Homo sapiens: one gene and its partners. The protein of the gene in region 1 purifies or fractionates together with the protein of each later gene. This does not show direct contact. Each region holds a gene or a part of one and is shown in the gene's direction. Other genes may lie near its edges. The genes, in order: GALNT9, IL37, SERPINB7, ESRP2, IQGAP3, OBI1 and MEX3D.

Region 1 (4,279 bases):
TGTGAACATGCACAGACATGAACACACATGAACACAGAGACATATATACATAGAAACATGCACATATGAACACACAAACACAGACATGCACACACAGACACACAGACACTCGTACACAGATACACAGACAAATGCACACATGGACACACAAACACAGACACATAGATGCACACAGATATAGAGACACATGCACACATGAACAAACAGAGATGAACACAGAGATATGCACACATGTGAACACACACACAGACATACATAGACACATACACAAATACACACAGGCACAGACAGACACATGCACACGCATGAACACACACAGAGACAATGCACACAGACACAGGCACATGCACACACAGATACATGCACACACGGGCACACAGACATGCACACAGAAACACGTGGACACATGCACATGCATGCGTGCTGACAACACAGACATGCACATATGCAGATACACAGGCACACAGAGGCAAATGCATGCACACTCATGCACACACACGGACACACACACAGCCAAGAGCTGTGAAGCCCCTTGCCTTACTCATCTCTGTATGGAGAGCCAAGCACAGCCATGCTCTTAATAAATGCTCCGTCATTTATTCACTCATCCCGCAAATGTTTACTGAACACCAGCTATGTGTCCAATCTCTGGGAACACAGGGGTGAACCCTGCCTTTGGGTGAAACTCCTGCCTCTTGGGTGCTTGCATTCTGCCAGTGGAAGTTGGGCCCCTGTGCTGCGCGGCTTGGCTGACATCTCCCCTGGCTTCCAGGGTCTCCTCCACAAAACGCCAGTGTGGGGCCAGATCAGAGCCTGGGCTGGGGGTGGGGGCAGCCGGGGTTTGCGGCCTCGGGTCTTACCTGCGAGCCTGGCTCAGGGACGGGGCCTTCTCCCTCCTGGTGGCTCCAGGGCCCCCTGCTGTTCCCGGAGGTCCGGCTGCATCCCAAGCCCCAACCCCCCCATACCCGTCCCGGGACTCAGCTTCCCCAGTCCTCAGCCCTGGACGGGGGAGAGGGAGGGAGGCCGGGAGCTCGGCTTGGGGAGGGGTGGGCAGGAGACTACCAGAGTGGCCCTGACCCGGGTCCTGCCCCGGCCGCCCCCTCCCCCATTCACTCCCGGCGACACCGCCCTGGCCAGGCATTCCCGGAGGCCCCGCTGCCCTCGGGTCAAGCTTGGGGTCGATTCGGACCGTGCTGGCCGTTGGGGGCCCCGGGCGTCTGGCGGGTCCTGGGGAGGGAGGGTCCGCGCCTGCCCCGCCCCCGCTCCCCGCGCCCGCGCGCCCTTGGCCCAGGCTACCCCGCGCGCCCCGCCCCCCGTCCCCCGCCCCCCGGACCTGCTGTCCTGGGGTCCCCGGGGGGGCGCGGTGGGGGGGGCGGGGCAGGCGCGCGGGGCGGTCCCGGGGGGCGGCCTTGAGGGGTGGGGGAGGCGGGGCGGGGCGGTCCTGGGGCCGCGGTTGCAGATGAGGTGAGGTGAGGCCGCGTCACTCTGCACCGGCGCGGTGGCTGCGGGGCGGGCAGGACAGGAGCCGGCACAGACACCGAGCGCCGCCCGCCCGCGCCTTCCCCGCCGCCCCCCGGCGCCCCCGGCCCCCCTCACCGCTCCCCGGGGCGGGGCCGCGCCCTCTGAGCGGGGGATGCCGGCCGCGCCCCGCGACCCCAGCCCCGGGCAGCCCTCTGCGCTCTGGGGGACCCCCGGCGGCCGTGGCCCGGCGCGCTGAGCTGGTGCTGAAGGGACAGCTCCGGCCGAGCCCCGCAGCCCCCGCAGCCCCGGGCGGCTCATGGTCCCCGAAGCCGAAGCTGAAGCCCAGGCCCGGGCGGGGATGCTGGGGATGCCCCGCGGGTGAGGCCCCCGCTGCAGCCGTGTTCATGGCGGTGGCCAGGAAGATCCGAACTTTGCTGACGGTGAACATCCTGGTGTTCGTGGGCATCGTCCTGTTCTCCGTGTACTGCCGCCTGCAGGGCCGCTCCCAGGAGCTCGTGCGCATCGTGAGCGGCGACCGCCGGGTGCGCAGCCGACACGCCAAGGTGGGCACGCTGGGGGACCGTGAGGCCATCCTGCAGCGCCTGGACCACCTGGAGGAGGTGGTCTACAACCAGCTCAACGGTGAGCGGGGGCGCCGGGGCGGAGTGGGGGCAGCCCTGCCCGGGACAGTGGCCACCCCGGGCGCGATGGGTCAGGCCGGCCTCGGGTGCGCGCCCCTCTGCGCCCCTGTGGGAGGGAATATACAGGAGAGAGGAGAGGGAAGGGCCGCGGAAGCCCCTTCAGCAGCGGGCAGCAACCTGGGTTCCCCCCGCACCGGGCACCCACCCCTCCAGTGGAGACTTGAGGAATCCCCCTGCCCCCACAATGACGCAAACTTGCTCTCCGAGGGAACTTCTGCAGAGGATCTTTGGAGCTGCTCTAGAAGCAGGCAGTGCCTAGGTCCAGGAGTGTGGGGTGGGGGGCTGGCTTGGCGCTCCAGGAGTGGGGGCCGTCAGGTTTAGGCTGCGCCGACCCCTCCACTCTTGAAGGTGGGGAAAGAGGAGGGTGGGGACGCCACACTTGGGAGGCTGCTGGTGCAGTGTCCTTTGCCCCTGAGGTTCGAAGGCACCCCAAATGCTTCGACCACTGGGCTAGGCGGCCCCCTGTCCTGGGGGTGCCCGAGGCCGCGTTAGAAAGTTGTTATGGGAGAAGCTTGAAGCTGAGACCTGAGACTCCTGGGAGGATGGAGTTGAGGATCATGCAGGGCTTGGCAGGACTCATTACCCAGGGGGGCCCAAGTTGTGGCACCTGGGAGCCCCAGAATCCATGAAAGCCTCCAGCTCCCGGTGGGTCTGTTTCATCACGAGCGGACGTAGGTCAGCCCGAGGAGCAGCACCGGCATCACCACAGGTCAGGGCCAGCGGCCACAGCTGCTGAGAGCAAGCACTTTTCCAGCTGCTCCACCTTCCCGGAGGAGCAGCCGCCCCCAAGGCCACTCTGCACCGGGGCGCCAGGAAGGAGAAAGTTTGCATGTGCCTACATCACTAGCTGGTGTGGCTTTCCGTTCCGTGCCGATGATTCAGGCTTCTGCCTTGGCAGCCCCAGCAAACCTCCTCCAGAAAGCATCCGTAACAGGCTCGAGTGGGAGGTGACGGGAGCTGGGGTTACGCGGGCAGGCGGGGGCTCCGGATGTGCCTGCTGTGTGTGGGGGCAAAGGCGGGGGGTGGTCTTGCGTTTCCTTCAGGAGCCACACCCTCTCTTGAGGGTGGGCTGCAGACAGGCCGTGGGGTGGGAGGGGGAGGTGAATCCCCATGAGGAGGGGTTGTCCCAGCTTTGTCTGACTCAGAGCACCCTGACTTCCTGAGCGCCTTCCCATCACCCACAGAATCCCTGACTTTCCCGCAGAGCTGTGCTTGGTGAGCTCTGTGGCTTCTCTGATCTTTCTGATTCAGCTGGAGCCACGAGGGGAGAAAAGTAGTTCAAGCAGCCGCCCAGCCGCCCGGCAGAGCAATTCATCTCCCGGAAGGCGGTGTGCCCGGCAATAGCACATGGCTCTATTGAAGTGTGCTCGCCATGGTGTTATGGTCTGTTTTATGGGGAGAGCCAGAGGATTACATAAAAACATTGGCAGCACACTGAGGTTGTGTAACACCACGAGGGCAGCTCGGCCCTGTGAGTCGTTTTCCCTGCCTCACCCTTCAAGGTGAGAATCGGCTGGGATTCTTGGTGGTGGAAAAAGCCAGGACCCATGATCCGCTTTGCTGACATTGGCGGGAGATAAGGAAGCATTCCGGGAAAGTGTGTCTCCCCCCACCGCCCACCGCCCCCACTGCCTTCTCCCATCCCGCTTCCTCCTGTCCTCTGTCCCCTCCCTTCTTCCTCTTCGCTTCCCTCCCCCTTCCTCCTTTCTTTCTTTTAAAATTGTTTCTCCTTCTTTCCTTCATCCTAGCTGTCCTCCCTTGTCAGCCTTTCTCCGAACGGCCCCTGCCATCTGTCTGCCTCTGTCTTTGCCCTCAACCTTTTGATGAGGCCGAGTTTCGTCCCCCTCTGTGATGAGGCTGTGCTGCGTTCCTCTCTGTGACCAGCAGGCCAGGCACAGTGTCTAAACCCAAGAGTCAGTCAATCTTTGCCCCAGGAAATGATGGGAGACACCAAAATTACTCTCACCCCCGGTGGGGCCCTACGGGGAGGGCGGTGCCGTAGAGGCCTGATGTCTGTCGCCATGAGGCCCTTTGAAACAGCATTACCCGCTCTGATGTTGGCACAGGCTCTCAGTGCTAAAAGGTGTGTAAGAAGCTCCCTGGAGGAGGCGGCCAGC
Region 2 (2,609 bases), on another chromosome or scaffold:
CCAGCACTGAGGACAAACAGCCATGGGGCCAGTGGGGGTGCAGGGACACCCACACCACTAAGGGCTCAGGGCGGCGCCTTCAGAGCCTGAACCTTCCTCTCATGCTGCCATTTGAACACCACAACACCCTAATAGGAAACTGTTAACATTGCCACTGTTCAGGTGTGGAAACCGAGACAGACAGTGGAGATTCCCTGCCCTAGGTGACACAGGTAATAAGTGACAGATGTGGAAATTTAAAGGTACTATAACGTCTGTCTGCCTGACTCAGGCTTAAGGCTCCCATCACCTCCTCTTCTCAGGACAGAGTCAGGAGGCCTCAGCCTGAGCCCCAGCTCTAGTGCAGGTTCATGTGGGAATACTGAGCCTCACTAGTACAATGGCAGAGAGGACCAAATGGGACCAGGTGTGTAAGGGTGCCTGGCACAGTTGGGGGAGGCTGCTGTCACTTCTCCACCGCTGCTGCTGCAGTTACCTTTGATGTTTTAGTTTTGTTGTAGTTACACCATTGCTGGCTTTGGATCTGCACTGTGTCCACTCCAGGTGGAACCACGCACACAAGCCTCTCTGTCGGGCCTGTCCTGACTTCTCCTTGTCAGGGCTGGGATCTCCTTCAAATCTGGCGGAAGTGGTTCTCCAAGTCTGGTCCTCAAACGTCAGCAGCATCAGCGCCTAGAAGTGTTAGGAATACACATTCCCAGGCCCCACCACAGACCTCCTGCCTCAGAAACTCAGGGCGCTGAGGCTCTAGGGGCTGCTTTAACAAGACTTCCAGGTTATCGTGACGCACCTTGAAAGTCTGAGAGCTACTGCCCTACAGAAAGTTACTAGTGCCCTAAAGCTGGCGCTGGCACTGATGTTACTGCTGCTGTTGGAGTACAACTTCCCTATAGAAAACAACTGCCAGCACCTTAAGACCACTCACACCTTCAGAGTGGCCTTGAGAAAGATTTGGGGTCAAGGATCATGAGCGAGAACACCACTTAAGAGGATAGTGAACTAGTCTGCATGTGAGACGCTGAGATCCTATGTCAGGCTGTGATAGGAGGGAAACAGAAACCAAAGGAAAGAACAGCTTTAAGAAGCGCTTAAGAGGTACAAAGTAAAATGATGGTGCTAGAAAAGTAGCTTCTTAAAAAGAGCATTTTCCAGTCTCACCCTGGACTAACTGAATGAGAATCTCAGGAGTGTGAGGCCCAGGTATCCATGGTCTTAAAATGCCACCCACCAGGTGATTCCCAGTGTGCACCAGGGGTGAGAGTCACAGCCTTAGGCCATGCCACTCAAAGGGTGTCTTCAGACCAGCAGCACCCACAGCTCTGGGAGTGCATCAGAAAGACAGAGGCTTGGCACCACCCACACCTACTGAACCATAGTTTGCAGGTGATTTCTTGCACATTAAAGTGTGGGAAATGGAAAAGCTTAGAGTTCAGCTAGCTCGGTGACTCTCAGTCAACCTGCACCTGCTCCATGAACTCAGACTGCCTGGGATGGGCCCAGAAAAGCTCCTGAGGAGATTCTGATGTAAGGCAGGGCTGATAACCATGGATCTCATCTGACCCCATATCACTGGGGAGTTACTTAGGATCTTGCCTGGGGCCAGTCATCTCTTCCATAGACACTGAGAGTGTCCACGATGCTTGGGGCACTACAGGGTGGGAGGTGGAGGATCACGGGTGAGTCAGATAGGAAGCCTGCTCCTGGGGAGCTTACAGTGCTATAGGGCAGCGAGCCAAGGATGCCAATACCTGTGTGCAGGTACCACTGACGAGTGCAGAGCGCTGCAGCACCAGAGAGGAAGCTACCCTGTGCAGAGGGGGCTGAGGAGGGCTGCAGGGAGATGACAGGAAAGCCGGTGTTACAGGAGGAGTCCTCCCCACTCTTTGGGCATGAGGAGACCAGGAGGACATTCTACAGTGAGAAACCCAGGCAGAGGCCATGTGCTTATGGCATGGGAAAAGAATGACACCTTAGACTTATTCTCTACATTAGAATTGCCTACCACAGATACCCATATTATAGCTTCACATAGTGTGGTGGTTACTGTGTTTTCATATTGTCACATTTGCCATTTTCCAGCCACCCACCCATTCTTGACAGTCACTGGCCCAGCCTGGGGGCCCCTGTTCTTTATCAAACAAGTGCCTGAGCTCTTTGCAGAGGTGAGGGTCACCTGTCCAATCAGAGGCCAGGAGGGAACGTTCCCTTTTAAGACCCTACTCTAGGCAGGCCTGGCCCAAATGAGTTGCTAGGAGCCCACGCCCTAAGAACCCTCTGAGCACTGTTGTGGCTGGTCCTGCTGCTAGAAGTTGTTCCTCCAGGGCCAGGTGCAAGATTTGTGGCTTTTCAAAGGAGCCACTAAAGCTCCAGCTCAGCCTTGCACCGTGCTGGGCTCCTGGGGGCTTCCTGCCTCCAACCCTCCCAACTCTTCCATCACCGCTCCCTTAGCCTGGCCAGTGCAGGGATCTGTTCCACTCTAGGCACTGCTGAGGGAATGATGCCTCCAGTCAGAGGGTGCAAAAAAGAGAGTTAAGAAAAACAATGATTATAAAAAGTCCTTTTTATACGCCAGACATTTTCTTTGCTCAGGCTAAGTGCTACTTATTTGA
Region 3 (3,500 bases), on another chromosome or scaffold:
GATATGGAAACTCTTCTAATAGTCAGGTAAAGACAATATGTTCTTTTAGAAAAAGAGAAGGTGAGCCAGGTGCAGGGGCTCAAGCCTGTAATACCAGAACTTTGGAAGGCTGAGGCGGGTGGATGACTGGAGCCCAGGAGTTCAAGACCAGCCTGGGCAACATGGCAAAACCCCATCTCTGCAAAATATACAAAAATTAGTTTATAATCCCAGCTACTTGGGGGGCTATGGTGGGAGGTTAGCTTAAACCCAAGAGATGGAAGTTGGAGAATGTGGAACTATCCTTTCAAAGCAAAGAAACATGCTTTATTCAGATTTCCAGATTGTGAATTTTTCAAGTAAAATTTTTGATAATTTACTTGTTATTTATTACTTTAGTAATATTTTATTTGCATATTGGCCATATTTGGGCAAGAAAGGATGAAGTTAAATGTTTTGCCTTTTTCTTTGTATATTCATAGACAACTTACATTGGTAAAATTAATTAATATATATGTTATGCAAAATCATTACCTTCTGTTAACAATTTTAAGTCCAAGTATTTAGTAAATTATTTCATTTGATCACAGACACTATTTTGAGAAAGGGTAAGACATAGATGTATGTGGCCTTGTTTGCCATTTTTATAGTATTTAAAAAAATTCTTTTATGGTATAATTTGCATGTTTTGTTTTATGTGTAAGTGAGATTATGCATATCTTTGCAGTCCAAAAATAAATTTTTATACATCTTTTTAATAACAGTCAGGGCTCCAGTCTCAACTGAAAAGAGTTTTTTCTGATATAAATGCATCCCACAAGGATTATGATCTCAGCATTGTGAATGGGCTTTTTGCTGAAAAAGTGTATGGCTTTCATAAGGTAAGTGAAACTGCCTTTGTTAGAAGGACCTGAATCTTGTTAAATCCATTATCTGAACAAAGGCTTGTGTCTTTCTACTGAGCAATACAAAGATGGTTTTGTTTCTCATTGCTACTTATTATGTTCTCAGATGTCTTGAATATATCATCACCATTTCCAAAGTTCAACTTTTTACCCAATTAATCCACATATTCAGGTTCATTAGACTGATAGGCTTCAAAACAGAAGAGAACGTGTCTATTGGTAGGGATGCTGAGCTGTAAATGGAATGGAGGAGCAGTCAGCCCATTTAGGGGTGTCCATGGCAGGAAACACATTCTGGGTTCAAGCAATAATCCCACCTCAGCTTCCTGAGTCGCTGTGACCACAGGTGCATGCCACTATGCCCAGCTAATTTTTTTGTTGTTGAGAAAGGGTCTCTCTATGTTGCCCAGATTGGTCTTGAACCCCTGGGCTCAAGTGATCTTCTTTCTTCAGCCTCCCAAATTGCTGCAACTACAGGCATGAGCCATCTTGCCTGGCCAAATTTTATTTTTTATGTCACTTAAGTTTTATGTATTTTTTTTAAGGACATAGACAAGTCTTAGAAGGAGATCAACATGACATACTAGTTGGACTTTTTAAAAAAGTATAAATGCTTAGTGGCTTCTAGCTCTTCTAGAGCTTCTCTCTCTCTCTCTCTTTTAGACAGAGTCTAGCTCTGTTGCCCGGGATGGAGTGCACTGGCGCAATCTCGGCTCACTGCAACCTCTGCGTCTCGGGTTCAAGCGATTCTCCTGCCTCAGCTTCCCAAGTAGCTGGGATTACAGGCACGTGCCACCACATCCTGCTAATTTTTTTTTTTTTTTTTTTTTTTGTATTTTTAGTAGAGACGGGGATTTGCTATGTTGGCCTGGCTGGTCTCAAACTCTTGACCTCAGGTGATCTGCCCACATCAGCCGCCCAAAGTGCTGGGATTACAGGCATGAGCCACTACATCTGGCCTGAGTTTCTTGGAAGTGGTAGAGAATAGCAACATCTATATAACTATCCTGTCCCTCCCCACTGCTATCTTTATTCCTTGCTGACATCTTGCATGTATCAATCTCTTGCATGTTTCAACCTTCCTAGGCCATGGACTACTTAAAACTACTCTTTGTGCGGTGGCTCACGCCTGTAATCCCAGCACTTTGGGAGGCCGAGGCGGGCGGATCACAAGGTCAGGAGGTCAAGACCATCCTGGCTAACACGGTGAAACCCTGTCTCTACTAAAAATACAAAAAATTAGCCGGGCGCGGTGGCAGGCGCCTGTAGTCCCAGCTACTCGGGAGGCTGAGGCAGGAGAATGGCATGAACCCAGGAGGCGGAGCTTGCAGTGAGCCAAGATAGCGCCACTGCACTCCGGCCTGGGCGAAAGAGCGAGACTCTGTCTCAAAAAACAAAAAACAAATAAACAAAAAAACAAAAAAAAAATACTCTTTGTGTCAAAGTGGATGGATGAATGGATGTGTGGATGGAAGAATGAATTAATCAGTAGATGAAAAGAGCTGTATCCAAGGAAATCACACACAAAGCTTGCATTAGAGAGCTAGTCTTATCCTGCAGATAGACAAAGGACAACTAGTGAATCTTCATTATTAGGATGAAAATCCTATAAACTTTAACAGGAAATCCACTAACAATACATGGTTTGTAATACATCTTTCTCTTCTAATTCTGAACATCTTTCCACAAAAATATATTTGTGTATATTCATTGAATTACTAATGTGTTGATAAATTAGATCATTATGACTTTTTTTGTATTAAGAACAGCAAGTATTTCTTAGGCAACTATTATGTCCAAGGCAATGTGTTAGGTACTGGGAATAAAATAATAAGCAAGGCATATATAGTCTTGACTTCACAGAATTTGCTGTTTTGTGAAGGACTCAGACAATCTCAAAGGTAAAAAGGATGCATTATGATAACAGCTGTTAAGAAAAGAAATCAAGATAAACAGACTGTTAGGAAATGTAGGTGGGACCAGGCGTGGTAGCTCATGCCTGTAATCCCAGCACTTTGGGAGGCTGAGGCGGGAGGATCACCTGAGGTCAGGAGTTTGAGACCAGCCTGACCAACATGGTGAAACCCCATCTCTACTAAAAATACAAAAATTAGCCCAGCGTGGTGGCAGGCACCTGTAATCCCAGCTACTTGGGAAGCTGAGGCAGGAGAATCACTTGAACCCAGGAGGCAGATGTTGCAGTGAGCTGACATCACGCCATTGCACTCCAGCCTGCAAGGGGACAAGAGTGAGACATCGTCTCAAAAAAAGAATTAAAAAAAAAAAAAAAAGAAAAGAAAAGAAAGTGTGGGTGGAACCTAGAGAAGATATCTGTCCAGGAGAGACAGCCATACTTGGAACTAGAAAATGGGTAAGACATAATCATGAGCTATATGGGCCATTTCAGGCAGAAGGAATGTTGTTCAAACACCTCTAGTGAGAGAGGAAACATGGCATTTTTGAGCAACTGTCAGGAATGTAGTATCGTGGGACAGCAGAGTAAGGAGAAAGTGGCTATGACGTAAGCAGGGTGGGGATCAGCAGAGTCTTGTCGGCAAGTTTCAAGAGCTTGGGCTTTGTCTTGAGTGCAATAATGTAGCCTTGAAAAATTTGCAG
Region 4 (2,298 bases), on another chromosome or scaffold:
GCTAAGAGAATATCACAGTCCCACTCCCTGTCCCAATCTGGGGAAAGGTCACGATCCCCTTTCTGGACCAGATAACTCCTCCCTTGAGATGACAAGGGAGTAAGGTGGCAGCTGGCTAATGCCATCTACAAAACAGATCGAAAATGACTCTGTAGAGGCTGGGGCTTCAGGGAGGAACTGAATTAAGCACAAGGCAGAAACAAGGGAGGAGGGAAACAGGTCTCGGTCTAGGCCACAGGTGGCATGCATGACTAAACCTTGTCTCTCCCACCCTAGCCCCCCAGTCTCCCCCACCACTGTGGGCTACCTCACTACACCCACTGCTGCCCTGGCCTCTGCTCCCACCTCAGTGTTGTCCCAGTCAGGAGCCTTGGTCCGCATGCAGGGTGTCCCATACACGGCTGGTATGAAGGATCTGCTCAGCGTCTTCCAGGCCTACCAGGTGAGATTGTGTGGCCGGAGGGCCTGGCGGGTCTGGCTGAGCTCTCTGCCCTAAATCTGTGTCCCTTCTGTAGCTACCCGCTGATGACTACACCAGTCTGATGCCTGTTGGTGACCCACCTCGCACTGTGTTACAAGCCCCCAAGGAATGGGTGTGTTTGTAGGAGAGAAAGCCAGGAGGTAAGAGCCAGCTGATATCCTCGGCGAACATGTCTCTCCTGAGTCCAGAAGACCAGCACCCTCAACCTGGTAGCTTCTTTCTGGCTTGTCAAAGCTCTCAGAAGGTACCTAGAGGAGCCCAAGCCCCAGCTCCATCCTCCACTTATTCTGCCTGTTTCCCCCAAAGACAATGGCTGGACCCTGCATGCAGGGCTGGGGGTGGAATGGGGCTAACCAGCTCCTGATGGCCTGAGCCAGGCATCTTGACTGGCACCTGGAGAGCCCTTAAGTCTGTCCTGGCTGTGGCCCATGCCGACAGATATCGTGGGGCTGACAGGTCCACGGCAGGCTTGCTTTCTTTTATAAAATGGAAGCTCTGGTACCTTCAATGTATGACTCCTGGGAGAATCAAGGGTCCATCTGAGCCTCTGAGTAAAGATCCCAATGTTCTACCTCTCCCTGTCCCTCTTGTAGGGGATAGGGAGGCAGAGAGAGCCAGCCCCTACCCTCAGAGTATCTGGACCTCAGAGACCATGTTGTGCCAGGGGTGGTCCCACCTAAAGATGCTAGCCCCTCTCCAGGTGGGCATAAGGAGTAACAGATGGCAAAACCACAAACTATTTTGATGGACTGTGCTGCAGTATCACCAGAAGACATTAGGGGGCAGTAGGCCCCCACACAAAACCTTCAGGCTTGAATTTTAAAGGGGAGGACTTTCTGCCAACTTTTCTTGTATGCCTTGGGAAAGCCAGTTGCCCTGAACCCAGCAGACACCATGGAATGTCCTTTGCACGCATTAAATGGTACAGAACTGAAGCCTCGGAAGCAATTTGGAACTCGATCTTCTCTTCCTTAAATGAAAAGTTATTGACCAAATGGACTTTTTAAAAGACACAGGACCCTTAACTTTGCCCCAAAGTGAGGGGCTCCACACCAACCCCAGGCGGAGGAACACTCAGACAGATTAAGGATACTGTTGACCTGTCACTGTTTATTATTTCAGCACTAAAACTGAGGAGCCTCAACTGCTGGCTCTTCTTCCCTTTGTATTTGTGTAAGGAGCACTGCACTCCCATAAAAGGTTTTAAAATACAAAATGTACAAGAACACACAATTCCAAGTGCTGTAAACATAACTGAGAACCAGTTCCTTTACTAAACATCCATTTTATAAAACACAAGGTTTCAATTTGAGCCCATCTGAGCCTTAAAGATCCATTCTGAATACCAAAAACAGGGCTTCACAGCCAGGCCCAGAAGAGGTCTGGTGATAATGGCTGGCCCTGGGTGGGGATAGTTTACACCCGGGCAGCAGCACCACACATGAACCCAAAGACATGTTCTTTTTAAAGCTGTTTTCAGCCATGTTTCTCTGTGCATCTCCAGTAAGCAGAAGGCTACCCATTCCATTCCTCAACCCAAGAGCTAGCACAGTTAGAGTAGGAGGGGGTGCGTACTAGCACGTGCCCAGTTGCTCAGTGCTGCTAGTAGAAATTGATTTGCATAGTCCAATGGATGTGTGCTTTAACACCACTATGTTGCACAAAAATTTAAGTCTTTATCTACAAAGCCAAAAAATATTGACTCTTAACACCAAAGCTTTTACAAAGCTGATATAAAACTGCTTACATAGTATACAAAGCTCTATTTTAAAATTTAATGTTTATTTTAAATAGGAAAGCATTTCTAGTGCTACAGG
Region 5 (3,500 bases), on another chromosome or scaffold:
ACATCAGCCAGAAGCAGACACCTGTGCTCACCAGTAATGAGAACTCTGGAGGCCTACAGGATGAGGGATACAGCTTTAGCCTTGGGAAGCCTCGGGCTACAGAGTCATGGGGCCCCACCCCTCTCCCCACTTCACACACTGAAACAAGCACCAACACTAGGGCTATGGGGGGCACTGAGAGACCGTCTGGGAATGCTCCCCTGGAAGGCCTGCACTCAGAAGAGTGGTCTGCTAGAATGCCTGGAGGCAGGAGAAGGTAGTAGGCAGGTGGGGGGCCAGGGGCAGGTTGGGCCCGCTGGAGTGAAGACTGAACCAGGGTCTTCCCAAAGAAAAGGTGGGGATGGCCAGTAGAGGTATGTCCCAAAACAGAACAGACAGGTAAATGCCCCCAAACATCCTGTGCCGTCAGAAAGATCCATTGTTGGGAAGTCACAGCTAGTGTCTGTCCGGAATCCTTTATGCCATGGCCTGGGTTTGGTTCTCCTTTGGGCCACTCTTCCCCTGTGGTGATCTATGAGGCCCTCCCATGTGTGACACCATGCATTATGGTGTTATACCTTGATATTCTTCATAAGCGATGCCCTGCCCCAGCCATATCCTGCAGAGGCTGGGCTCTGGGGCACTTTCTTAATGATATGCAGAAAAATGCTCAGGCCTCCCTTTGTTGCTGGTGCCCATGGGACCTTCACTGGTGTGGGAGCAGAATGGTAGGACCTGGTAGACCCCTCCAGCGTCTGTGTGTCCCCAGGAAGCAGCCCACAAGCAGCTGATGAGCCGACGCCAGGCCTGTACAGCCCAGACACCGGAGCCACTGCGACGACACCGCTCACTGACAGCTCACTCCCTCCTGCCACTGGCAGAGAAGCAGCGGCGCGTCCTGCGGAACCTACGCCGACTTGAAGCCCTGGGGTTGGTCAGCGCCAGAAATGGCTACCAGGGGCTAGTGGACGAGCTGGCCAAGGTAACAACCTGGGCCTGGGCTCCGTGTGCCTGTGTGTACGTGTGTGTGTGTGCGTGCATATACATGTTAATCCATAGTGTTGGTGGGCCCCTCCTGATGAGTCCTCACCCAAAATTGTCACCAGCCAGAGGAAGGCTGAGGGTCCTTTTTGAAGGAAAGATTTTTTTTTCTTTTTTTTTTTTTTTTTTGAGACAGTCTCACTCTCATCCAGGCTGGAGAGCAGTGGTGTGATCCTGGCTCACTGCAACCTTCACCTCCTGGGTTCAAGTGATTCTCCTGCCTCAGCCTCCCAAGTAGCTGGGATTACAGGTGCGCGCTGCCATGCCCGGCTAATTTTTGTATTTTTAGTAGAGACACGGTTTCAGGCCATGTTGGCCTGGCTGGTTTCGAACTCCTGACCTCAGGGTCCGCCCATCTTGGCCTCCCAAAATGCTGGGATTACAGGTGTGAGCCACTGCACCCAGCCAAATTTTTGTATTTTTAGTAGAGACAGGGTTTCACCATGTTGGCCAGGCTGGTCTCAAACTCCTGACCTCAAGTAATCTGCCCACCTTAGGCTCTCACAAAGTGCTGGGATTACAGGTGTGAATCACCACTCCTAGCCTGAAGGAAAGATCTTGAAATTAGTTAGAGAGGAAGGTGTTCTTGCAACTCTCTTTTTTTTTTTCTTCCCCACATTAGCTGGGTAATGTGCCCAGGTCAGAAGGTTTGAGAGAAGCATATCTCACACAAGAGCATGAAAACCCAATCCTCAGCTTATGACCTACAAAAGTATCCTTGCAACTTTCTTTTACTAAAAAACAAACAGCCTTGAAACCAGTTAGTCCTCAACGGGCAGAGGCCCTGAGGACATGCCTTGAGGATTTGGAATACCATCCTTGAGATTTTCCTTCTAGGAAAACAGCCTTGAAGCCTGTTCTTCCGAAGAGCCTCACAGTGTGTAGCTCTTGGGCCTGTGTCAGGCCCTAAGGCTCTCCTGCCAGGAAGGACCACTCATCCCTCCATCTGTTCCCCAACCCCAGGACATCCGCAACCAGCACAGACACAGGCACAGGCGGAAGGCAGAGCTGGTGAAGCTGCAGGCCACATTACAGGGCCTGAGCACTAAGACCACCTTCTATGAGGAGCAGGGTGACTACTACAGCCAGTACATCCGGGCCTGCCTGGACCACCTGGCCCCCGACTCCAAGTAGGTGCTGCTTTCCCGTACTTGGAAGGTTACGAGTGACTTCTCACCCCTGCCCATGTCACCTTTGCCCTGCTATCTCCCAGCTTTGAAAGGGGAATCTCACCCAGCACAGCACAGTCCCTTCCTAAGTCTGGTCTTTGAGCCTCATTTACAAAGTCTTGGGCTCAAGTGCAGCCCCCCTCCTCTGTCTTCCATCAGTGAGAAGTCTTCCTCGGGGTCTCATTTCCTTTCCAGCCACAGAAAACAAGTTTCTTTGGTGGTAAAGTGTTTATTGGATGAATTCTCTGGGGCCTTCTTTTAATCAGGAGTTCTGGGAAGGGGAAGAAGCAGCCTTCTCTTCATTACACTGCTGCTCAGCTCCTGGAAAAGGGTGTCTTGGTGGAAATTGAAGATCTTCCCGCCTCTCAGTATGTGTCTTTGGAGGGCAGGATGTCAGCCCCTTCCTGTCCTCTAACCTGGGGGTGGAGCTCTGGGCTGGGCACCGGGTGGAAGAGAAGAAGCATGGTCCCGATCTTGAAGGAGCTGCTAGAATGATGGTGGAGACAGAGCATGCCCAGACAGAAAGTGAAGGGCTGTGGACATGGTCTAGCACAGTTCTAGATGCCCTGAGGCAGAGGGTACTGGGAAAGCTTTCCAGAGGTGAGAACAGCTGCGTAGGGCGGGGCAGATAAAGAGATGGTGTGGGGAGCAGAAGTAAAATGGAGAAGACAGCGAGCTGGGCCCTCTGGGAGTGACAGAGGGAAAACTGGTTCTGGATGACACCGCTGCCCAGGATGAGGAGCAGTGGGTGCAAGAATGTGGCTGTAGCCCTGGAAAGAGGCAGTGGGTTCCTGTTTTGAATCCTGTTCCTGACAGCTTCAGAAACGTCATCTTTGACATCACGCCGGGAGATGAGGCAGGAAAGTTTGAAGTAAATGCCAAGTTCCTGGGTGTGGACATGGAGCGATTTCAGCTTCACTATCAGGTGAGGGGACAGTCCCATGAGCCTGCAGGACATCTGCTGGGCTTTAGGTGCTGGCCTGAAGAGAGCAGCTGGCCTCACTTTCCTAGTCCTCAGATGACACCAGCTCAGTTTTTCACCCAATCAGTATCGTCTGTTCCTGAAGAGAAGGGTGGGGGTCTGTGCAGCCCAAGCCCCCCTTTCCCCATGCCCTGACACAGACCCCACTGGCAAGCATCAGGGAGAGTGGAGTGGGCTACTGGTGTCAGAAGCAGGATTAATATTTGAAGCCCTATCACATGTCAGGGACTTTACATGTTACCTCCTTTAATCCTCTCCACAGCTCTGAAGTATTATCCCTATTTTACAGGCTCTAGGCTAAAAGGTTAAGAAGCTGGCTAAGTCATAGG
Region 6 (3,500 bases), on another chromosome or scaffold:
ATAAATGTAAGGTATTATTATTTGTGCTTGTTTAAATGGAGCCTGGAGTCAAAGATTTGTGTATTTGGTGTATCTCAGTAATTCTGTCTGCATTGTTTGCTGTTTAGATTATAAACTACTTGAGAGTGAAGCTCATGCCTTTTGGGTTGTTTTAGCTTTCATTACTGTTTGGTTTTGGGGAATTTCTAGTAAAGTATCAATACAATATTTAATAGTTGCTGTTATTCTGTAACAGTGGAATGAATTGAGAAAAGGATTCGGGCATCAGATGGATGATTGTGCTAAATGATATTTTCAAAAACCTAATCCTGCTGTTCTATAATGCTAAAATAGAAGAGTTTGAGCAAAATTGTCCCAGCCTTAGTGGAACAAAAAGCATTTTCTTTTTGGCATGAATTCTGTGGTTTAGGTACAAAATAAAGCATTTTATATGTCAAAAGCTTCAGTCTCCATGATCCAGTATCTCATCTAGTATCTCTGTTAAACATGTGTAAAAAGAAAAGTGACCAACAGAAGCAGTGTTTTTAAAAGCGCTAGATATCCCTTCTTAAACTCCTACTCTGCTATAATCTAGAGAAGCAGTTTGCTGTAAACTAAACCATTTGATCTTCTAATTATGACCGTTGTCCTGTACTAAAAGTGATTTCTTTTTTCAAAGGTACGTCAGCCTGTCATATGCATCAACAACCATGTATTTTGTTCGATTTGTATTGATTTGTGGTTGAAGAATAATAGCCAGTGTCCAGCTTGCAGAGTCCCCATCACTCCTGAAAATCCTTGCAAAGAAATTATAGGTAAGGGCCTGTTTTATATATGCATAGGAATAGGTTTGAAACAATCTCCAAATAATTTATATTTCGAGGAAGACTGAAATAGGCTATTTTCAGTGATGCTATTTGGCCAACATAATACTGAGTGGTTGAGTAATTTGTGTAATGTATATGTGGAGCAACTGGGGCACAAGGCACTGAGAGGTGCTAAGAGGAATAACCCTGAGAGCCTCACGGAACTTACATTTTCATAGCAACTGAACCAAAAGAAAAGCAGCAAGTGCTAAGGGCCCCAAAAAAGCCCAGAGAGTTCAGGCAAGAAACTTCAGCTAAGAACACCGAGAAGGGCTTCATAAAGTAGGTGGCCTTTAAGCTGGACATTTAAATTTAAGGATGGATAACATTTCAACGGTGAAAATTAAGGAGGGCATTTCCTGCAGGGAGAATAGCATGAACTAAAAAGTTTAGATACAGGAAAACCCAGAGCATGTTTTTAGAAATGATCAGTAGTCTACTTTGGGTCCGACTACTGAGATAAGACAAAAGGTAAATTGAGACTTTAGTGCAGAGAACCTTGAATGACAGCTAAATCAGGGACTTGCTCTAGGACTAAGAAGAAGGGTGAATTGGGCATGATGGTTTTGAGCAAGGGAGTGGTATGATCCAAAATGTGCTTTACAAATATTACTTGTGGTAATACATAGGTTGGACTATAGGAGTAGACAGGATGTGAGTAGGTCTGGTAGGAGGCTTTTGCCTAGGTGATAGAAAATGTAAGTTTGGATTAAGGGTGAAAACAAATTCTATGTCACATTAATATTGGTGGGGTGGGGGAGGAGTAAAGCTTGAACTAGAGGATCCTTGAAAAGGAGAACTTCTAAAGAGCCTTTTTAGAGTTTGGTTTTTATTCTACTCATATAAGTTATTTATTTTAGGTTGCAAAAATTAAAATGATTTCTACTTGTTTTTGCTATAGGAAAAATTGAAAGTGAATCTACAATTAGCCAAGTATAGAAAACATTTTTCAGAAAACTTAAGAAGTCATTGTAATAGTCCCAAGTTAGGGAAAATGGACTTAAATAAGATTTTTTTTTTTTGAGACAGAGTTTCGCTCTTGTTACCCAGGCTGGAGTGCAGTGGCGCGTTCTCGGCTCACCGCAACCTCTGCCTCCTGGGTTCAAGCGATTCTCCTCCCTCAGCCTCCTAAGTAGCTGGGATTATATGCATGCATCACCACGCCCGGCTAATTTTGTATTTTTATTAGAGACGGGGTTTCTCCATGTTGGTCAGGCTGGTCTCGAACTCCCGACCTCAGGTGATCTGCCCGCCTTGGCCTCCCAAAGTGCTGGGAATTACAGGCGTGAGCCACCGTGCCCAGCCAAGATTTTTACAAAGGAAATAGAAAGGAATATATATGCTACAGAGCAAAAGAAGAACTAGTAGGACTTAGGAAATAAGAGATCTGAAGGCGCAATCAGAGTTGGCTCTTGGTACCTGGGTGAAGTCTGGTAGAGGACTGGTTCTCTGCTGTGTTGCATGCTACGGGGTTAACCTCTATCTGTTTTTTTTTACCTGCTGAATTTCACCAAGGAGTCAAGTCTTTTCTTGCAGAATATGAGCTTTGATGATTTGAATATTTTCCCCCAGCTTTTCTTCTCATCCCATATCCTACCTTTATTCATTCATACCTAAGTGATATTTCATAAATTCTCTCAAGGAAAATAGTTCATCCATTTTTGCATTTGGATAGAACATCCTGAAAAAGAACACCTGTAAAATACCTTTGCTATTATTATAATGCTAAAAAATACAAAGAAGGTAACCAGAGCATCAGTGAAGAGCTCTCAGGAAGAATTCATTGTGAGTGCATTTGTAACAAGTCATGACATAGAGTTAATGCCATGACTTACAGTCCATTGTAACTAGCCTGTTAGAATCCGTGAAAAGACACATTAATCTATATACATAGGTATATAGCAGTAATACTTTTTTTTTTTTTGAGACGGAGTCTCGCTTTGTCGCCCAGGCTGGAGTGCAGTGGCGCAATCTCGGCTCACTGCAAGCTCCGCCTCCCGGGTTCATGCCATTCTCCTGCCTTAGCCTCCTGAGTAGCTGGGACTACAGGCGCCAGCCACCACGCCCGGCTAATTTTGTTTGTTTGCATTTTTAGTAGAGACAGGGTTTCACTGTAGCCAGGATGGTCTCTATCTCCTGGCCTCGTGATCCGCCCGCCTCGGCCTCCCAAAGTGCTGGGATTACAGGCGTGAGCCACTGCACCCAGCCAGTAATACATTTTTATATAATCTCTTGGTTAAATGTAAATGTAATAATTGGTTTTATTATTTAAATATAGTCTAGTTTTCAGAATTTGAAGTAGTCCAAATGTGATAATTACAGCCCTTTCCTCCACTGAGTTTGCTGTGATAAGATATGTAGATATGTAAATACAATATGATGTGTTACTGAAGGTATTTCTTATGGTGTTATTTGATATATTTTTTTTTCCTCAAGATTAGGGTAGAGAAAAGGCCTAGATGTAAGCCCCAAGTGTGTATGTAAGGGGAAGGGTAGATGTGAAGCTGGGAAGCTATATAAAACAATATGAAAAAGGATCATTTTCATTCTTCCCGAATCAGAATGAAAAATTAGGATTTTTTTTTTTTTCCCTACAGGAGGAACAAGTGAAAGTGAACCTATGCTAAGCCATACGGTCAGGAAGCATCTTCGGAA
Region 7 (4,154 bases), on another chromosome or scaffold:
TGGTGTGATCATAGCTCACTGCAGCCTCCACCTCCCGGGCTCAGGTGATCCTCCCACTTCAGCCTCCTGAGTAGCTAAGACTACAGGTGTGTACCACCACACCTGGCTAATTTTTTGTTGTTGTTTGTAGTAGAGATGGGGTCCTGCTGTGTTGCCCAGGCTGGTCTCAAACTCCTGGGCTCCAGTGATCCTCCTGCCTCAGATTCCCGAAGTACTAGGATTACGGGTGTGAGCCACTGACCCTGCCACTGTGGCTCTTTTTTTTTTTTTTTTTTTGAAATGGAGTCTTGGTCTGTGGCTAGGCTGGAGTGCAGTGGCATGATGTTGGCTCACTGCACCCTCCACCTCCTGAGTTCAGGCGGTTCTGCCTCAGCCCTCCCCAGTGGCTGGGATTACAGGCGTGCGCCACCACACCTTGCTAATTGCGGCTTTTTTTTTTTTTTTTTTTTTTTTTTTTTTTTTTTTTTGAGACAGTCTCGCTCTGTCACCCAGGCTGGAGTGCAATGGTGTGCGATCTCGGCTCACTGCAGTCTCTGCCTCCCAGGTTCAAGCGATTCTTCCGCCTCAGCCTCCCGAGTACCTGGGACTACAGATGCCTGCCACCACGCCTGGCTAATTTTTTGTATTTTAGTAGAGACAGGGTTTCACCATGTTGGCCAGGCTGGTCTTGAGCCCCTGACCTCGTGATCCACCCAACTTGGCCTCCCAAAGTGCTGGGATTACAGGGGTGAGCCACTGCACCCCGCTTTTTTTTTTTTTTTAGTTGGAGTCTTGCTTTGTCGTCCAGGCTGGGGTGCAGTGGTGCAATCTTGGCTCACTGCAACCTTCGTCTCCTGGGTTCAAGTGATTCTCCTGCCTCAGCCTCCCAAGTACCTGGGACTACAGGTGCCTGCCGCTACACCCGGATGATTGCTTGTATTTTTAGTAGAGACAGGGTTTCACCATGTTGGCCAGGCTGGTTTGGAACTCCTGACCTCAAGTGATCCACCTGCCTCGGCCTCCCAAAGTGCTGGGATTACATGGGTGAGCCACGGGCCCAGCCGACCCTACGTATTAAATTAATACTGTCAACGCCGCATATTAGGGTCCAGCTTGTGAACTTGGGGGAAACATTCACACCCCAGCCGTCACACTGCGGTTCCAGGGGAACATAAATTATGGCGCACACCTTTCAACCTAAAACAGGGTCCCCTTGCCGTCTTGCTTTTAGGCCAAACTCGAGCCCAGAGGGGAAACTGAGGCTGAGGGAAGAAGGGACGTGGCGTGTCTGAGGATAAAGTGTTGTTGGGCACAGGCTGGGAGGTAGGGGCTCCCTCACTGGCCCTGCAGCCTGCATGCCCAGCGGGGCTGAGCTGCGCAGGGGGCTCTGGGTCACCTTGTCCTTCCCCTCCCTCCCGGACAGGCTGCAAGATCAAGGCCCTGCGGGCCAAGACAAACACCTACATCAAGACCCCAGTGCGGGGCGAGGAGCCGGTCTTCATCGTGACCGGCCGGAAGGAGGACGTGGAGATGGCCAAGCGTGAGATCCTGTCGGCGGCCGAACACTTCTCCATCATCCGCGCCACGCGCAGCAAGGCCGGGGGTCTGCCCGGCGCCGCCCAGGGCCCGCCCAACCTTCCCGGACAGACCACCATCCAGGTGCGCGTGCCCTACCGGGTGGTGGGGCTGGTGGTGGGGCCCAAGGGCGCCACCATCAAGCGCATCCAGCAGCGGACGCACACCTACATCGTGACGCCCGGGCGCGACAAGGAGCCGGTGTTCGCGGTCACTGGGATGCCCGAGAACGTGGACCGCGCGCGCGAGGAGATCGAGGCGCACATCACGCTGCGCACTGGCGCCTTCACCGACGCGGGCCCCGACAGCGACTTCCACGCCAACGGCACCGACGTCTGCCTGGACCTGCTCGGGGCGGCCGCCAGCCTCTGGGCCAAGACCCCCAACCAGGGACGACGGCCCCCCACGGCCACGGCCGGCCTCCGCGGGGACACGGCCCTGGGCGCCCCCAGCGCCCCCGAGGCCTTCTACGCGGGCAGCCGCGGCGGCCCCTCCGTGCCGGACCCAGGCCCCGCCAGCCCCTACAGCGGCTCCGGCAACGGGGGCTTCGCCTTCGGCGCGGAGGGTCCCGGTGCCCCGGTGGGGACGGCCGCCCCCGACGACTGCGACTTCGGCTTCGACTTCGACTTCCTGGCGCTGGACCTGACCGTGCCCGCCGCGGCCACCATCTGGGCGCCTTTTGAGCGCGCCGCCCCCTTGCCCGCCTTCAGCGGCTGCTCCACGGTCAACGGAGCCCCGGGACCTCCCGCCGCCGGCGCCCGGCGCAGCAGTGGGGCCGGGACCCCCCGCCACTCGCCCACGCTGCCCGAGCCCGGCGGCCTCCGCCTGGAGCTCCCGCTGTCTCGCCGTGGCGCCCCGGACCCGGTGGGCGCGCTGTCCTGGCGACCCCCGCAGGGCCCCGTATCCTTCCCAGGCGGCGCCGCCTTCTCCACGGCCACCTCGCTGCCCAGCAGCCCCGCGGCCGCCGCCTGCGCCCCCCTGGACTCCGGCGCCTCCGAGAACAGCCGCAAGCCCCCTTCGGCGTCCTCGGCCCCGGCCCTGGCGCGAGAGTGCGTGGTGTGCGCCGAGGGCGAGGTGATGGCTGCGCTGGTCCCCTGCGGCCACAACCTCTTCTGCATGGACTGCGCCGTCCGCATCTGCGGCAAGAGCGAGCCCGAGTGTCCCGCCTGCCGCACGCCGGCCACCCAGGCCATTCATATCTTTTCCTAGAGCGCGGACCACCACGTGGCCGGGGCCATCTGCGGGGGCCAGGGGTGGGCGCGGGAGACGGGGCGGGACCCGGGGTGGGAGAGGGACGGGGAGGGGGCGAGGGGCGGAGGCCGAGGGGGCAGGGGGGTGGGCGGCGGCCAGTGTTTACAGATGAGCTTTAACTGCCGCCTCAGGCGTGGAGACGGAGACCCCGCAGCCCGGCGGCGCCTCAGCCCTTCAACGACAGTATTGAGTGGTCAGGTTACAATAAACCGGAGAGAAAAGGTCCGCTTGCACTTTTTTTAGTTTTCTTATTTTTAGACACCCCTCCCCTCCAGGGTGATCTTTAAAAAAGCAAAACAAAAAACACGACTTTTCCAGCGCTCAGCGTTTTTTCCTTTCGTCCGAAGCCGTTTTCTGATTTGACTTTTCTCGCCGGCCGGTCTCAGGCCGCACAGACGTTCCAGAGGAGGAGGGTGACATTTTTACTCCCTTTTTGGGGCTAACCATTTATGCTTTTGTACATCAACCGTGCGCGGCCGGAGGGGGCAGGGGGGCGGGGGCGAGGGGCGTTCCAATCAAATTTCTAACTTTCTGTTAATTATTAATCCCCTTTTTACTGCGGTTTCTGTTGTCATTTTTAAAATTTTTTTAATTTTTTTTTTTTTTTACTTTTACTTTTTACCTCTTGTGTATATGTAGGGAATTTATAGGGAAATATGTACTTTATGGAATAAATTTTAAGAACTAAAATATATTTTATTTTAAATAAAGTAATGGACCTTTAATCTTACACAGCTAAATTACTGATTATATATTTGCTGAGCTGATTTAAGGGTTAAAAAAATTGTATCAAGAGTTTTATTTTTTGACTTCAAAGCCTTCTTAATAAAGCCTCTTTTCTACATGTGAGCACACGGCTTCAGCGTGGTGTGGGGGATGGGCACCAGGAGGGGAGACCCCGGGGCAGGGGACACCCGGATCCAGCCCCTCAACCCCCCAGTTCCGTGGTCCAGGCCCTCACCCCGACCAGGCACTGTCCCTTGTTCCAGACGAAGGAATTGGGTCTGTGGGGGAGGGTCTAGCTGGGCTCCCCGTGAGCAAACCTCAGGTCCTCCCCATCCCTGTGGGTGTTCAACCATGGATCCCACAGAGAAAGGGGACCCAGGCTGTCCTTCCTCAGGGACATCTGCCCAGCTCTCTGGGTGTGTGGGATCCATCCCAACAGACCGTCCAGCGGTCGTGCAGATGGGGAAACTGAGGCCTGGAAATGCCCGTCCCAGGTTTGACCCCGATGCATCCTGGTCTGTGAAGGACGTTTGAGCCGTGGTCATCCCCCCACTGCTCTGGGAGCCATGACAGACACATGGGGCCACCAGATATAGCTCTTCAGGGCTGGGGTTGAGACCACA

Evidence for each region.
Region 2: the proteins of GALNT9 (region 1) and IL37 purify together in Homo sapiens (affinity purification with mass spectrometry; one large-scale study listed by BioGRID and IntAct). This does not show direct contact.
Region 3: the proteins of GALNT9 (region 1) and SERPINB7 purify together in Homo sapiens (affinity purification with mass spectrometry; one large-scale study listed by BioGRID and IntAct). This does not show direct contact.
Region 4: the proteins of GALNT9 (region 1) and ESRP2 purify together in Homo sapiens (affinity purification with mass spectrometry; one large-scale study listed by BioGRID and IntAct). This does not show direct contact.
Region 5: the proteins of GALNT9 (region 1) and IQGAP3 purify together in Homo sapiens (affinity purification with mass spectrometry; one large-scale study listed by BioGRID and IntAct). This does not show direct contact.
Region 6: the proteins of GALNT9 (region 1) and OBI1 purify together in Homo sapiens (affinity purification with mass spectrometry; one large-scale study listed by BioGRID and IntAct). This does not show direct contact.
Region 7: the proteins of GALNT9 (region 1) and MEX3D purify together in Homo sapiens (affinity purification with mass spectrometry; one large-scale study listed by BioGRID and IntAct). This does not show direct contact.

The regions. Positions count from the first base shown.
Region 1 is NC_000012.12:132,326,790-132,331,068, reverse strand, and holds the start of GALNT9 (polypeptide N-acetylgalactosaminyltransferase 9), read left to right. Parts: upstream 1-1,479; 5' UTR 1,480-1,865; coding exon 1,866-2,103; intron 2,104-4,279. UniProt on the Homo sapiens protein: Catalyzes the initial reaction in O-linked oligosaccharide biosynthesis, the transfer of an N-acetyl-D-galactosamine residue to a serine or threonine residue on the protein receptor. Does not glycosylate apomucin or SDC3.
Region 2 is NC_000002.12:112,914,165-112,916,773, forward strand, and holds part of IL37 (interleukin-37), read left to right. Parts: intron 1-1,028; coding exon of another isoform or gene 1,029-1,095; intron 1,096-2,609. UniProt on the Homo sapiens protein: Immune regulatory cytokine that acts as a suppressor of innate inflammatory and immune responses involved in curbing excessive inflammation.
Region 3 is NC_000018.10:63,792,418-63,795,917, forward strand, and holds part of SERPINB7 (serpin B7), read left to right. Parts: coding exon 1-26; intron 27-743; coding exon 744-860; intron 861-3,500. UniProt on the Homo sapiens protein: Might function as an inhibitor of Lys-specific proteases. Might influence the maturation of megakaryocytes via its action as a serpin.
Region 4 is NC_000016.10:68,228,533-68,230,830, reverse strand, and holds the end of ESRP2 (epithelial splicing regulatory protein 2), read left to right. Parts: intron 1-276; coding exon 277-442; intron 443-515; coding exon 516-605; 3' UTR 606-1,798; downstream 1,799-2,298. UniProt on the Homo sapiens protein: mRNA splicing factor that regulates the formation of epithelial cell-specific isoforms. Specifically regulates the expression of FGFR2-IIIb, an epithelial cell-specific isoform of FGFR2.
Region 5 is NC_000001.11:156,527,566-156,531,065, reverse strand, and holds part of IQGAP3 (ras GTPase-activating-like protein IQGAP3), read left to right. Parts: intron 1-748; coding exon 749-961; intron 962-1,636; exon of another isoform or gene 1,637-1,736; intron 1,737-1,983; coding exon 1,984-2,150; intron 2,151-2,455; coding exon 2,456-2,557; intron 2,558-3,005; coding exon 3,006-3,114; intron 3,115-3,500.
Region 6 is NC_000013.11:78,642,156-78,645,655, reverse strand, and holds part of OBI1 (ORC ubiquitin ligase 1), read left to right. Parts: intron 1-658; coding exon 659-794; intron 795-2,103; exon of another isoform or gene 2,104-2,630; intron 2,631-3,442; coding exon 3,443-3,500. UniProt on the Homo sapiens protein: E3 ubiquitin ligase essential for DNA replication origin activation during S phase.
Region 7 is NC_000019.10:1,554,172-1,558,325, reverse strand, and holds the end of MEX3D (RNA-binding protein MEX3D), read left to right. Parts: intron 1-1,402; coding exon 1,403-2,763; 3' UTR 2,764-2,936; coding exon of another isoform or gene 2,937-2,995; 3' UTR 2,996-3,654; downstream 3,655-4,154.